Linked DNA regions of Homo sapiens: region 2 is linked to region 1. The links come from fine-mapping of genetic effects on gene expression. Tissue or cell type: whole blood. Region 1 holds a variant in brackets; the other region holds the start of a gene. All regions are shown on one strand. Distances are from middle to middle.

Region 1 (8,112 bases):
GTAAAGAAGACTGTGTAAAAGTTCTCAAGTACTTACAGAAGGCACAGTTGCAAATACGCTGGCTGAAATTCCATCAGGCATAGCAAAGAGTGGCTGCTGGGTGATTAGAAGCTGAGTGGAGATACCAGAGGTCATTCACTATTAACAGACTTTGAGGTTCCAGCCTAGCCAGGGTAGAAAAAAGGATTGAAAAAGAAATTGAAGAAACTAAGAAGCCTGTGGGAAAGTACCAAGTGGTGAAATGAGGATGAAATTGGAGTCTCAGAATGAGAGGAGTTAAAGAATAGGAAATAAAAATTTGGGAGGGAATAAAAGCAAAAATTTTCGAAATTTGGTGACATTTTATTAACCCATATATTCAAGAGTCTCAATAAACACTTAGCAGGATAATTGCAATACACACACACACACACACACCACCTACACATATCATAGTCAAACTGCTGAATACCAATTAAGAAAAAAAAACAAATCAAATAGAAGGCAGCAAAGAAAAAATGGATGTCTGACTTCTTTTTAGGTAAAATGGATGTCAGAGGAAAATCAAACCTCATTTAAAAGGTCCTAAAGGAAAAAAAATTGTGAACACTACAGTCTGCAAAAACAACCTTCAAAATTAAAGAAAAAATAAAAACACTTTTAGGTGAATAAAGCTGACTTCTTTTTTAAGTGCCTGAAGATCTACACTATAAGAAACAATAAGGAAGTCCTTTTGGTTTAAGAGTAATTTTACCTCAAAGACAAAAAACAAACAAACCAGTTCAGAAATGGACAGAGAACTTGAATAGACTTTCTTCAAAGAAGATATACAAATAGCCAATCAGCACAGGCAAAGGTACTCAGCATCACTCACTAATCATTAGCAAAGTGCAAATCAAAACTACAATGAGATACTACCTCCCACCCATTAGGATGGCTGCCATAAAATAAATAAATAAATAAATAAATAAATACAAAAAACAAAACAGCCAGGTGTGGTGGCTTATGCCTATAATCCCAGCACTTTGGGAGGCCAAGGCAGGTGGATCACTTGAGGTCAGGAATTTGAGACCAGCCCAGCCAACATGGTGAAATCCCGTCTCTACTAAAAATACAAAAATTAGCTGGGCGTGGTGGTGGGCTCCTGTAATCCCAGCTACTTGGGAGGCTGAAGCAAGAGAATCACTTGAACCCAGGAGGCAGAGGCTGCACTGGGCCAAGATGGCACCACTGCACTACAGCCTGGGTGACAGAGCAAGATTCCGTCTCAAAAAACAAAAAACAAAACAAAACCCCTTATATATATATACACACATATATATGTAAAATATATAATATATACATTATATATATATAGAGAGAGAGAGAGAGAGAAATTGGAACCCTCAAGCATTGCTGGTAGGAAGGTAAAATTGTACAGTGACTGTGAAAAACAATATAGCACTTCCTCAAAAAATTAAATGTAGAATTGCCTTATGATCTTGCGCTTCCACTTCTGGGTATATACCCAAAAGAATTGAAAGCAGGGTCGCTAAAAGACATTTGTATACTTGCGTTCATAGCAGCAATAATTGCAATAGCTAAAATATGAAAACAAACAAGTGCTCATTGATAGACGGATGGATAATCAAAATATGGTACATCCATACAATGGAATATTATTCAGCCCTAAAAGGGAAGGACTTTCTGACACATGCCACAACATGAATTAACCTTGAAGATGTTGTGCTAAGTGAAGTAAGCCAGCACAAAAAGATACTATTCACTTATATGCTTTCACTTATATGAGGTAGTTAAAAGTAGTAAAAAAATCATAGAGATGAAAAGCAGAACAATGGTTGCCAGGACACAAGGGCGGGCTTCATGGGCAGTTGTTTAAAGGGAACAGAGTTTCAGTTTTAAAAGGTGAAAAGAGTTATGGAGAAGGACGGTGGTGATGCCCACACAACATTTGAATGTACTTAATACCACTGGATTGTACACTTAAAAATAGTTAAAATAGTAAATTTTATGTTACTTGTATTTTGCCACAATAAAAAAATTTTAAGAGTAATTATACAAAATGAAGTCTCAGACCTTCAGGAAGGAAAAAAACACTGAAAATGGTAAATACATGGATAAAATATGAGACTTTCTCTTTTTCCTTTTCTCGATATTCTAAAAGACAATGATTTAAAGCAAAAGCAATGGCATTGTAGGGTTTCTATATGTAGAAGTAAGCAATTTGACAATAATAGCACAAAGAACAGAAAGGGGCAAAAAGAACCCTACTGTGGTAAGGTTCTCGTATTTTACATAAAGTGCTACAGTATTAATTCCAAGTGGAGTACAAAAATGTAAAGATGCATATCATAATCCTGAGAGAACTACCCCACCCTTTAGAAAAACCATTAAAAGATATATACTTATAAAGCTAGTATAGAAAATAAAGTAGAATGTTTGATTGGCCCAAAATAAGATGAGAAATAAAAGGGAAAGGAAGCAAAAAACACATGGAAATAAAAAACAAATAGCAAGATGGTAGATTTTAAACCAACCATATCAATAATTACATTAAATATAAAGTAAGCACTCCAATAAAAAGTCAGAGGATGTCAGATTGGATTTAAAAAGAAAACCCAGCACTATGCTGTTTTAAAGTGATTCACTTTAAATATAAAAGCACAAGAAAATTGAATTATGTAGTCTGAAAAAAAGACATACCACGCAAATAGTAATGATAAGAAAGAAGTTTGGTCACTTAAATATTAGATAATTTTAAGGTGATATTTCATAATGAAAAAGGGAAAATTCATCAGGTGGTCCTATAATCCTTAAAAATATGACCCAATAACAGAGCTTCAAAATAAATAAGGCAAAAAATCACAGAAGTCAAGAGAGAAATAGATGAATCCAAAATCACATTTGGTGATTTTAATATCCCCTGTCAGGATCTGAGAGAACAAACAGATAAGAAAATTACCAAGGAGAAAGAAGATTTGAATAATAGTATCAAACAATTTTACTCAGTTACATTTACAGAATGTTACCCCCTACAATTGCAGAATATACATTCTTTTCAAATGCATAAGGAACTCTCACCAAAATAGACTATATTCTGGGCCATTAAATTTGTCTCCATAAATTCCAAAATCTAACAAAATATGTTATCTGACCACAATGGAATTAAATGAGAAATCAATCAGATACTTAGAAAAATCACCAAATATTTGAAAATCAAACAACACAGTTCTAATAACCTATGGATCAAATAATAAATACCAATACAGCTTAAGAAATATTATGAGCTGAATGATAATGAAAACAAAAGATTTTAAAAATTTATGGGATACATACAGCATTGGATTAGTAGAAAATATACAGCAAATGATTATATTAGAAAATAAGATTTACATCTTTATCACCTTCATTTATCTCTTCATCAATCACTTAAGTTTTCATTTCAACTAAATAGAAAAAGAACAATTAAAATTCAAAGTAAGGAGAAAGAAATAAATAATAAACATAATATCAGAAATCAATGAATAGAAAACGAGGAAATTAATGAAGCTAAAATTTGATTCTTTGAAAGGATTCATAAAGTACTTCTATTTAGTTATTTTTTAGTTGGCAAATAATAATTGTGTATATGTATATTTGTGGGGTACAATGTGGTGTTTTGATTTATGTATGCATTGTGGAAAGATAAATCAAGCTAAGTAACATATCCATCACCTAAGCACCTGATCATTGTTTTATGGTGAGAACATCAAAAATCTACTCTTTCAGCAACCTTGAAATAAACAATACATTAGTATTAATCTGATGAACATCAAGCCAGATTGATGGGGGAAGCATGAGATAAAACACAAATTACCAATATCTGGAATTAAATAGTGAGAATTTATAGACACTGCAGATACTAAAATTCATGATAAGGATTATTATGAACAACTTTATTTCAGTATTTTTGCAACTTAGGTGAAGTGAACAAACTCCTTGAAAAATGCAACTTTCACACAAAATGAAATAGAACAACTGAATAGCATTGTGAGGTTTCTATAAGTAGAGGTAAGCAATTTGATGTAGAGGTCAGCAAATATACATATATTTGCGTGTGTGTGTGCATGTGTGTGTGTGTGTGTGTGTGTGTGTGTGTGTGTGTGTGTGTGTTTGAAATGGAGTCTCACTCTCACCCAAGCTGGAGTGCAATGGTGTGATCTCGGCTCACCGCAACATCTGCCTTCCAGGTTTCAGCAATTCTCATGCCTCAGCCTCCCGAAAAGCTAGGACTACAGGTGTTCGCCACTATGCCCAACTAATTTTTGTATTTTTAGTAGAGACAAGCCTTCAGCATATTAGCCAGGCTGGTCTCAACCTCCTGCCCTTAAGTGATCTGCCTGCCTGGGCCTCCCAAAGTGCTGGGATTACAGGCTTGAGCCACCGCGCCCAGACATTTTTTTTCCTAGTTAAAAACAAAACACAACTTTTTCACATGGGAGACTCCTGGAAGAGGTGGCCTCACTGGACTCCATCAAACATTTAAGGAATAAATAACACTAATCTTACAGAATTTCATGAAATAAAGAGGAAACATTTCCCAATTTAATTTATGAACAGTATTACTCCATTCTCACACTGTTATAAAGAAATATCTGAGACTGGATAATTTATAAAGGAAGGAGGTGTAATTGAGTCCCAGTTCCACATGGCTGGGGAGGCCTCAGGAAACTTACAATAATGGTGGAAGGGG[A/G]AGCAGGCACTTCTTACATGGGGGCAGGTGAGAGAGAGCGTGGGAAGGAGGAACTGTCACACACTTACAAAACCATTAGATTTCCTGAGAACGAACTCACTATCACAAGAACAGTATACGGGAAACTGCCCCCATGATCCAATCATCCAGGTCCCTCCCCTAACACGTGGGGATTTGGGGTTTATAATTTGAGATGAAGTTTGGGTGGGGACGCAGAGCTAAGTCATATTGTGAACCCAGTATGTAACTTGATACCAAAACCTAACAAGATCATTAGAAGAAAAGAAATTTACAGGAAATATTTCTCAAGAACATAGATGGGGGTGGAAATCCATTTGCTAATCCTATCAACTAACTGAATAAAACAATTTACATAAAGGATAATGTAGAGTGACCAAGTTATTCAATATGATTGATCATGTTGTAGGGTCACCCAGATCATCCCTCCACTTCCTTCTTTGCCTTGGGAAACAGATTACCTTGACCACCCTGTGGCCCAGCCAGCTGTGTGTTTCCCCTGCAGCTTGAACCCGAGCTGACCCTTGAACATTCCCAGGCACTGTTAAAAGTTATTTAGGTTGTTGCCCAAAACAGTGAAAATCAACCAAGTTGCTGCACGTGGATACTAGCTCTGGCCCTGAGCCAAATTTCTTAAGGCCTCATGTAAACTCTTATAACCTGTCGCACAAATGTTAAAAGCAACAAGACAACTGCTATAGCAGAGATGCGTGCAAAGTGCTCTGGGAGGAGCCACATCTCCACATGAGGCAGTTGAACGACGTTTCAGCTGAGTCTTGACATGTGAGTTCATCCAGGAAACGAATAGCAGAAGAGCATTTGACCAAGAAAATAGTACCTACGAAGCTTGAAGGATGGCTGGAGCTTAGGGTTTGTGAGACAGAACATCAGGAAGTGAGCCCAGAAAGGTAAATTGGCACCAGGTTAGGGAAGGTCATATTTGCCAAGGTAGAAAGTTTGCATTCCATAAGTGGAAGGCGACAAAAAGCAGGTTTGTATTTTAGGAAAATGATTCTGGCAGCCTAGGTGGATGTTGTAAGGTAAGAGCATAGTATTATGCAAAATAAACTACCGTGTTGTTGTCGGTTTTTTTTTTTATCATGGCCTTTCATGATGTCTATTTCTTTTTCTCTATTCCCAATGTTCCTTTCTTCTGGTGATGATATGCTATAGAAATTGTCACGGGTGATTAGCAACTATCTGGGGCTGGTGGCATGGGGGTAAGAAGAATTTATCAAGATAGTTGTAGGTAAAGAAAGGCAGATATATTAGAGAACGTATGAAAATACGTTGCAAGGAAGCAATGGGCAGCACAGCAGAGAAGGGGCTGTCTGCAAGGAGACAAAGGCGTGCTGGAGATTTTACAGGATGGTGCTTGTACTGTGTGCTGAAGAGGGTTTGTGTGGTACTGATAACACTAAGGTTGCAGTGAGCTAAGTTACATTTTTCTATCAGCTGAAGGTCTGGTGATAGCTGGGTGCAGGAATATTGTGCAGGAGGGCTATGTGTCCTGGACCATGAAGAAGGTGAGTCTTATACATTACCTGCTTTCTTTCTTTGTTTTTTGTTTTTTGGTTTTTTTTATTTATTTATCACATTGTGCAGGTTAGTTATATATGTATACATGTGCCATACTGGTGCGCTGCACCCACTAACTTGCTTTCCTCTGGTCCTGCCAGCCTGACTTCTTTTCCCTAAGGAGGACTCCACAGAAATGAATTCTGGGTGATTTCTATATTCTACGATGGAGACTATAGCTATAGATCATTATACAACACTACCTAATTAATCAAGACCAAAATAAATAGTCCTACCTGCAGGACAATAACCAGTAACAAATAATTTACAATTAGAAATTAGTTCCAGACAGAAGGAAATATTTCTTATTTTACCTGCACTTACATGACTGCATTTTAGCTAACTGGAGCCTGTGATGGACAACCAAAACATGGGTTTTCTTCACAGATATTTTTCTTTTGACTCATTAGGTTACTGTGAAAAGATAATTTTCTTTCAGAGATTTGTAATTTTTCAGAAGTGTTTTTGAATCCTTGAACTCATATTTGTTGCAGAGCAGCGTCAATATACCATGAGACACTCTAAGAACTTTTTGCATAAGTGTTGATGTGTAAAGAGAATCACTAAATTCAAACCCAGCTCTGCCCAGGGAGTAATAAATCCTAAGAGACTATTTTAACTCACTTACATATGTTCTTCTGGTTTGGTTTGGTTTGGTTTCTACTATCAGGTACCTAGGAAGTAGCACTCAAGATTAGGAGAAAAAATAAGTTTATTCTGGATCAAAAATTTTTTAACTTTTTCAGATTAATCTGTTTTTTTCCTATAATGTTCTTAAAAATTCTAGAGACAATTTTCTCTATGCACCTTTGAAAATGAAATAAATGTAACGACTAAAACCAAGCAAAGTGAAATAGATTATCCTTCACAATGGAGGTGAAATCCAAGAGATAATTCAAAAAAATTACGTATCTCAAGTTCCTGTCTGTCAGATTTGGCACCAGAGATTTCATCCAGTGGAATTACTGATTTGGAACCTAAATAGAATTTTATTTTCCAAGTTCCAGTATTTTCAATTTTCATGAAATTCAGGCCTTCATAAATAAATAAATAGGAGAAAACAGGCTCTACATCTCAGAAGAAAAGATTCCTGTGGGTTCCTTGCCCCTACTCTGAAGTATAATCATTAAGGAATTCCCAAGGGACTAAAAGGTTATAACTTAGAATTTATATTTCACTCTTATTAGGAATACAGGTAAAATAGTATAACTTATCTAACAATAAGCAATGAGAAATGTGGAGAAGGCAAGTTTCAGGAAATCAAAGATCATAATTCCAGCTCTAACCAATTTATATTTTAGCCTGCAGAAAAACAAGTTATTCCTATCAGTTATGTAAAGTGACTTTTCCATTTGTACGCAGGTAGACATGGTTTGCACACACACACACACTTTAAACCCAATATATAGCTCACTCCTCCAGTCTTTATCAGCACATGCTCTGAGATCACAAAAAGCATTGAAAGATTACTAATCACACTGACCATTTTTATGGTGGTGGCACAAACAAATAATTGTCATTTTGTGAGCTGTAATACTAATTTTAAAAGGGGACACAAGCAATCAATCCACAGAATCAAAATCTGTGGACATATTATTTTCCTGATTTGTAATGAGTTGTATCTATAATTATTCATTGGCCAAATTTTCTCTTTCTTTTATTATTCTGTCAAAAGCACAATGCTTCCTATGACGATTTTCTGAAATAAGTGTTTTGTCTTGCACATGGAAATGGTGTGGGTCCTGCTTTGGTAACCTAAAGTTATCCCTATTTTATGAGGCATAAAACTCTTCCTCAGTAAATAA
Region 2 (8,112 bases), 51 kb after region 1:
TTAAAAAAAGAATTTGCCTGGTGTGGTGATGCACGCCTGTAAGTCCCAGCTACTGGGGAGGTGGAGGCAGGAAGATCACTTGAGCCAGGAGGTTGAGGCTGTAGTGAACCATGATTGCACCACTGCCCACAGCTCAGGCAACAAAGTGAGACCCTGTCTCAACAAATAATAATTAATTTAAAAAAATTTCTTTTGAGATGGAGATTCACTCTTGTCACCCAGGCTGGAGTGCAATGGTGTGATCTCAGCTCACTCCAACCTCTGCCTCCTAGGCTCAAGCAATTCTCCTGCCTCAGCCTCCAGAGTAGCTGGGATTACAGGTGCACGCCACCATGTCCAGCAAATTTTTTGTATTTTTGGTAGAGACGGGGATTTCACCATGTTGGCCAAGCTGGTCTTGAACTCATACCCTTAGGTGATCAATCCACCTGCTTCGGCCTCCCTAAAGTGCTGGGATTACAGGCATGAACCACCAAGCCCGGCCTAATTGAAATTTTTAAATACAACAGTTAATAAAAGCTTCTATTCCTCAGAAAAGCAAGCATATAAGCATGCAGAGAAATTTTTGCATATAGTTTTAGAGATTTTACTAACTTCTTAAAGTCTATCTATTGCATTCCATGTTTAAAATTGCAGCTGCAATTGACTGTTTTCAGCTGGGAACATTTTCCCAATGGATAAGATGCTACAAGGGCATAAGCATGAGTGGTCAAGTAAAGCTGATATAAAACACTTTGTTACAGCATGATCCTCAGACCGTTTTCTCATATTTCTATTTGTCCAGGAAAAAGGGGCCAACAGAGAGATGATGTGAGTTATGAAGTCTTCAATACAGTATTTCAAATGAGGAAGAAAACAACAGCCAACTTGAGTCGCTTACAAATAGTATCTGTATATAGTGTCTGTTCATGTCCTTTGCCCACTTTTAATGGGCATGTTTTATTTCTATAAATGTCTAATCTTCTTATGTAACCTTCCAACTCATAGGATAATAGCATAGCAATTTTGCCTGAAGACCTACTACTCATCTGTGCTGAAATATCATGTGTAGTAAAAATGTATTTGAGAGTCATTTTGGCCATCTTTCTCTACTATAAAGAACGGGTGCCTATAAAATGCTTCATTAATGGAATGGTTGTCTTGAAAAGGCACACAAACAGACGGTGTACCCAGTTCATGACAGCTACCTTCTGACAGGGCTCCCTTCTGACCCCAACACACCCACATGCAACCCCATGCATTCACTCAACAGCTGAGCTGTCTTACAAAGTACCCACTCCCTTTCAAGACGACAACTGAGTTCATCAGAAAGATGAATCAAATGTGAAAACTACAAATGTTTCAGCCAGAAAATCATGCAAAGCAGAATGATTTTGATTCTGAACAATTTGCACTCTACAGAAATACCAAAAGAAATCCTGAAACCATATTGCAAGTGAAATGCTTGTGAACCAAAAGGATCAGTAAATGTTGGCCATTTACTGAGGAAGCAGTTGGAGGCTTCATCCCTCGCGTTCTTTAAGAATACTTCAAAAACAAGCTCAGCACTCTGCCGTTGTCCTCCCTAAAAGCAAAAATCTGCAACAAGTGGCTCAGCGTTGCTTTTCTTTCCAGTCCTGCGATTCCAAAAATCCTGGCATTTACAGGCCATTTTATCCTTCTTAAAAATGTAAAATTTAAAAGAATGTGATGAACGTTTTTAAATTCTAGAAAAACTATGTCACTAAAGTGAATTCATTTTAGTTCCTTATTTGCCAATTAAAATGTGTTAATTGACTTAAGTTTTTCTAAAATGGAATAAGTCGCAGGAGCCCATTTTTCCAATTATTCTAGCCATTCTTTTGTCTTCCAATACATACACATAGTATCTGAAAGGATGTTCACCAAATGTCACCAAACGTTGTGTGTGTGTGGTAGAATTTTTAAATATTTTTTCCTGTACCATCATGTATCACTTGATTTTGTATAATAAGCATGTATCATTTCTTTTAATGCTTTTAAAATGATGCTTTTAAAAAAGCATCATTTCTTTTAAAATCCAATGGAACTCTACACATTAGAAGTTATGGAAAACCAGGGCCGGGTGCGGTGGCTCATGCCTATAATCCCAGCACTTTGGGAGGCCGAGGTGGGTGGATCACAAAGTCAGAAGTTCAAGATCTGCCTGGCCAACATGGTAAAACCCCGTCTCTACTAAAAACTACAAAGATTAGCCGGGCGTGGTGGCACGCACCTGTGGTCCCGGCTACTCGGGAGGCTGAGGCAGAAGAATCGCTTGAACCCGGGAGGTGGAGGTTGCAGTGAGCCACGATCACATCACTGCACTCCAGCCTGGGCGACAGGGCGAGACTCTGTCTCAAAAAAAAAAAAAAGAAGTTATGGAAAATTGGCTGGGCAGGGTGGCTCATGCCTGTAATCCCAGCACTTTGGGAGGCCAAGGCAGGCAGATCATGAGGTCAGGAGTTCAAGACCAGCCTGGCCAACATGGTGAAACCCCGTCTCTACTAAAAATACAAAAAATTAGCTGGGCATGGTGGTGCGCACCTGTAATCCTAGCTACTCGGGAGGCTGAGGCAGGAGAATCGCTTGAACCCAGGAGGCGGAGGTTGCAGTGAGTCAAGATTGCGCCATTGCACTCCAGCCTGGGTGACAGAGCAAAACTCCATCTTGAGAAAAAAAAAAAAAGAAGTTATGGGAAACCATCATATAACAGTACTAGAAGAGACTATTTCTCCCCAGTGCTCTCAGATCTCACCACCAGTTTTTCCTGGCCCTGGTCCTGCTATGACACAAGAAATCTTTTGCTCAAGGATAAGTCCTATAAATCAAAACTCCCACACATGGACATAAAATGAGACAGTGGCCAAATCTATGGGGTTGATAAGTCACTGCCACTCAGACATGCCTGAAATAATTAGAGAAGCATTAATTTCATTGTAGATTCTGGTGAGAGAATTTAGAAAAAGGCAGTGCAGCCCGGCCCTTGCACATGCTAAAGGTAAATGTTTTCTTCCTTGGTAAGTCTGGGTCCAGGCGAACAGGAACCAGAGCTGACCATAACTTTGATGACCAGGAACCGTCCACATCCACAGAACACTGGTTGCCACCACTCGCCAAACAAGTCTCTCTAGTTCCCTCATTTGCTCTATTTTTATCACTTGTCTCTTTTGTCTTTTTCTCATATCTGAGATGTAAGTGACTGTCGGCACTCTTTCTAAGCACTCTCCAAGCTTCCCTGAGGCTTGGAGGCTCATTTTTCCAGCTCGTGCACAGTGAAATAAAAAATATTCAGAGACTCTTCCCTGATAAGGTTTTGTTGTAAGACTGGGAGGAGCAGAGCTGGTGTGCTTTTGGGTGGCTTTATTTGTAATTGGAAAAGATTGGCCTTCATGGATGGTTAATCTATACCCAGGAGAGGCGTTTTCCTACTTTCTAGTTCTATAACTCACAGTCCTAAAAGGAGCAGAAGTTGATGGCATCAGGAGACCTGTGTTAAAATCCTGACTCTAAAAAGTTTATGATTGAGTCAACATACATTTGCAAAATACCACCAAGAAACCAGACTTTGGTGCTCAAAAATGGAAGACATAAACTCTGCTTTCAAGAAGCCTGCGGTCTCAGAAGGGTGTGGCAAATGCAGTATAATGGAGTGAAAGAACGGAGTGGACTTCATCCCAGGCACAGGAGGTGGCTGCGCCTGGCTAGGGGCTCCCAGCTTCCACCATGAGGTGGGATGCCAAGGTGTCTGCCCCTCTGGAGGACCTCGGCATCCAGAAGAGGCAGTTTCCTCCTAGAGGGTCACCCAACTCATGCAGGAGAATTCAGAAAATGATTGTTGAAGGAGGTAGCCCTTGAACTATAGAAGAGGTAGGGGTGAGTGACTTTCCAGGCAGGGAGGACAGCACAGACTCGGGCAGTGTCACCTATGAATTCATGTGCTCAATTACACTGTACATGCGAATCAGCTCTGGATCATTCATCCCTATGAGACCCTGATTCTTTGTCTGCAAAATGAAGACAACAACCCTTGCCTGGATACATAAAGAGTTGTGAGGATTCAATAAAGAATATAAAAGAGCTACACCAATTGGCAAGTCCTATTATTATGAAAGAGAAGTGTGGTACAGGACCTGTCAAGATTCAACCCAAGATAACAGTGCTATGTGGAGAAAGAATCTAGCCCTGGCTCTGCCACTAACCTCCCCACCACCATAGGCCTCAGCTTTCCTCATCTGTCCAATTAGTGGCTTGGAACCAGAAAGGCCAGAAGCCCTTCCTGCGCTGATATTTTATTTGTAAGTCCCCTTTAAATCCAACTGCCAGTAACTAGCACGTGGCTCCCGCCCCCAGACTGCTTCTTTATTCATTCCTAACCTTTACCTTGGCAGATGAAATATAAGATTCATCAACCACATTTGACAGCCCATGGCAGGTTTCCTGTTTTCCATCGTCCCTCTGCAGGTCACAGACACACAGAGCCCAGCCGTGGCAGGCTCAGCCGGGGTCCGGGGCTGCTAACAACGGCTACATTCCTCCCCCAGGGCCAAGGGAAATCCTGAGCGCAGGCCAGGGTTGTTTGGTTTTGAGGTGTGCTGGGATGAAAGGCACCCTGGAAGTGGAAGGTTCGGTCATTCATTAATTAATTACATCTATAATTGAGGGTTTGTTCTTAAGAGCGAGTCCTTTGAAAGTACTTTCCTTCAAACAGTGACTGCCACAAAGGCATCAGATATTCACCACCTTCTCGGCTGCCTCAGCACAGCAAGCTTTATTCTGGGACCTGAGATCCTGTTCTGAGCTGGCTTTCCCTTCTCCAGGCTCGCTCACCCTCCCTTTAGAGGTGGGGCTTATTGGGGGTGGAAAAAGGTGTGTGTATCTCTGTTGTTTAATGTCTGGTTTTTTGTTGCTGTTGTTGTTGTTTTGTTTTGGTTTTGGTTTTTGGTTTTTTTTAAGGAAATCTATACTACATCGAATATGCTTTCTTTTGGGTGGACTTTAACCTAACCCATTCCAGGTAAATGAACAATGGAAAAACTTCACGGCAAGATTAGAAAGATACCTGAGCCCAATACCCGCCTGATGTCGTGGGCCACACCTCCGGGTTACCAGGGGAAGGGAGGAAGCAAACTGTCATATTGATGTGGCTCTAAACAACAACAGTGTGCGAAGGCCCAGGGGCACTTTGGGATTGACCAAGAGGAAACACAAGTTGCACAATGATACAATCTTGTTGGTACAATTGTCAGAGAAGGGAACTCCCACAGCAAAGGCCATAAAACCATCCAGGGCAGTCTGGGGCGGCTCAGTTCTGCGGTGCCAGGGAGTGGAGCAGAGCTCAGCCCCGTCCCAAACACAGATGGGACCATGAACTCCGGACACAGCTTCAGCCAGACCCCCTCGGCCTCCTTCCATGGCGCCGGAGGTGGCTGGGGCCGGCCCAGGAGCTTCCCCAGGGCTCCCACCGTCCATGGCGGTGCGGGGGGAGCCCGCATCTCCCTGTCCTTCACCACGCGGAGCTGCCCACCCCCTGGAGGGTCTTGGGGTTCTGGAAGAAGCAGCCCCCTACTAGGCGGAAATGGGAAGGCCACCATGCAGAATCTCAACGACCGCCTGGCCTCCTACCTGGAGAAGGTTCGCGCCCTGGAGGAGGCCAACATGAAGCTGGAAAGCCGCATCCTGAAATGGCACCAGCAGAGAGATCCTGGCAGTAAGAAAGATTATTCCCAGTATGAGGAAAACATCACACACCTGCAGGAGCAGGTAAGATGCTGGGTGACCCTGGAGATCCAGATGGGGCTGCTTTGCCAGGGGACCCTCGGGAGGAAAAATGAGTCCAGAAGACAATTTCCAGGAAAATGGCATCAGCGCTTGAAGTAATTGTGCACAAAGGTTTTGGGGGATGTTTTCTTATTATATCTTAAATTTGGAGTGGGAAACGTCTGTTTTGTTTAATTAGTCTACTGTCCATGGATAATGTAGAAAAAGAAGGCAGCAAAAATGATAGAAGTGCTACAGACTGTTTCAAAAATGAGACTACTGATTTCTCACAGACCAAAAACATCTTTAAAATGTGAGGCAACCAGCTGCTGTTTAATGTCACTTATGACCCAACGATGTCATAGAAATGATAAGGGCTGGTGTTCATGCTGCATGCTCAGTGCACCAGGCATAAGAGAGTGTTTACTTTCTCATTACCTCAGTTCTGCTCCACCTCAAACTTTTTTGAACAATGTGGTTATCCATCGACAAAAGGCTGTTACACTATTTTGAAGATTATGCCTAAAAGTTGTCACCACACCAGCATATAGGTCATCATGACATCCCTAGATATTTCCGTTTGTGGGTTGCTTGCAGTAAAGTTGCTCACAGTTCTGACAATGGCATATTGCTAGAACCAATAATAATAAAATGAGCATAATTTTTAGAATCTGAGAGTTGAGATGGCTATAAAGACCTTGTTCAAAAAAAACCGAACTCTTTAACCAAACCTCAAAAAAGCTAAGCAAATACCTTCTGGGATGTCTCATAACATTAGCTAGAAGTAGAAGGAATCCAATCATCTCATAGGTTATGTTTTAAAGCTATCTAACTCCCCTCTTATATAAAGCAGTCCCAGAAAATTCCCTGTAAGACCATGATTTAACCTCCCCTAGAAAGGGTATCACAAGTTTCCAATATTTATATATATTATTTCACAATGCTCAGTCATCCTTGCTTGAATGTAGGAAGGACCAGTCAAGATAATATAAATCTGTCCTTGTAATGAACCCTAATTATTGAATAATCAACCTAATAACTGACTGTAATTACCTTAACTATATAGTGCATGGTTGTCTTTATGAAAAAAAAAAAAAAACAAGGTGACTCAACAGTCCTCATCATGTTTTTTTGTTTAATAAAGTTGCTTTGGTTGTAGAAAGGAGGAATTGAAGATTTTTGCAAATGGAGAGCAAAGGGAGACCATGACTCCCAAAAGAAATACAAGGTTAGAACCAGTCAAATAATTTATGAGCTCGCGGAAGAGATTTAAAAAAAAGAAAGGGAGGAAAGAGAGGGAAATGTTTACTGAGCACTTATTATGTACCTAGGCATCCTGCTGGATATTTAATACACATGTCAACACTATCCAAGAGTTTTCTGCAATGATGGAAATGTTCCATATTATTTTATTTGATTCTGCAAGAACCCTGTAAGGAAATGGAAGCTTGGAAAAAAGTGAAATAGCCATCCAAAGCCATCAGCAAGAAGCAGAGGTGGGATTCTAACTCAGGTCTGTTTCCAGTAGCCTCATAAATTTCACTACAGTGTAGTGCTGCCTAGCCCACCTCATATAAAAATGACACTTAGTATGAATAAAGATAATGCATTATACTTGCATCATTAACCACACATCACATACTTCATACACATTGTCTCATTTAATCCTCACAACTGTGTGGAGCAGGTATTTGTATTCTCAACTTACAGATAAGGAGACTGAGACCTAATCATTGTCTAAATCCTTTGGAACAGAATTGAGAAAAGTGAGTAGGTGCAATGGGGGGTGTGGGGAGCAACCTGCCCACCCTTCAGATGACCTGGAATTCTGGGTTCTGAGATTGAATAGGAAACTTCTTTGGCTTTGAATTTCACTCTTTTCTGGATTTTTACCTCTAACATTGTGTTTTCTCTACACTTGAAGAAAGAAACTCTTTAAAGTTGAGGTTGTCTATCTACCCCAACCTCCCTCATTTGAAGATGAGAAAACAGAGGTGCAAGGAGGTCCCACAATTACCTGGGGCTTATCCTTCCTGGACCTTGGTGAAATGCTCTGAGTGGATACAGTTCTCCCGTACCCTCACTTTAGGTATATTAAATATCACTCAAAAGGTTGATAACAAGTTGAGCTTAAAAATTAATTCAATCCTTTTGAAATCCAGAATTGGACACAGTCATAGGAGTATCATAAATAAAACACCTTGAATGATTCTCAATCGGACTATATTTGGCATTTTTGTTTACAGTCAAACATTCTGTTTTCCTCTCCCTAGTAGATCAAACATCCTGAAGCAACAATGCTGCAAGAATATGCCAACTTGCTTTTAAAAGAATGAACTGAGGGCCTTCAGGAGA

The links. PIP is the estimated chance that this variant, and not a neighbour inherited with it, causes the effect.
Region 2: it holds the start of KRT23, and the variant in region 1 is fine-mapped to the expression of KRT23 in whole blood (TOPMed, PIP above 0.99).

What each region holds. Positions count from the first base shown.
Region 1 is chr17:40,984,447-40,992,558 of GRCh38, reverse strand. It overlaps a transcript of KRT40 not described here. Among named protein-coding and RNA genes, the nearest start is that of KRT40, 4.2 kb to the right of the region's middle. The variant A/G (reference allele first, on the strand shown) is at 4,712.
Region 2 is chr17:40,933,856-40,941,967 of GRCh38, reverse strand. It overlaps KRT23 (keratin 23), which reads left to right and starts at 4,322. Exons shown (of 9, transcript NM_015515.5): 1 at 4,322-4,622; 2 at 5,015-5,760. The coding sequence starts at 5,365. All of the region lies in intron 1 of LOC107985072 (a long non-coding RNA gene), which reads right to left.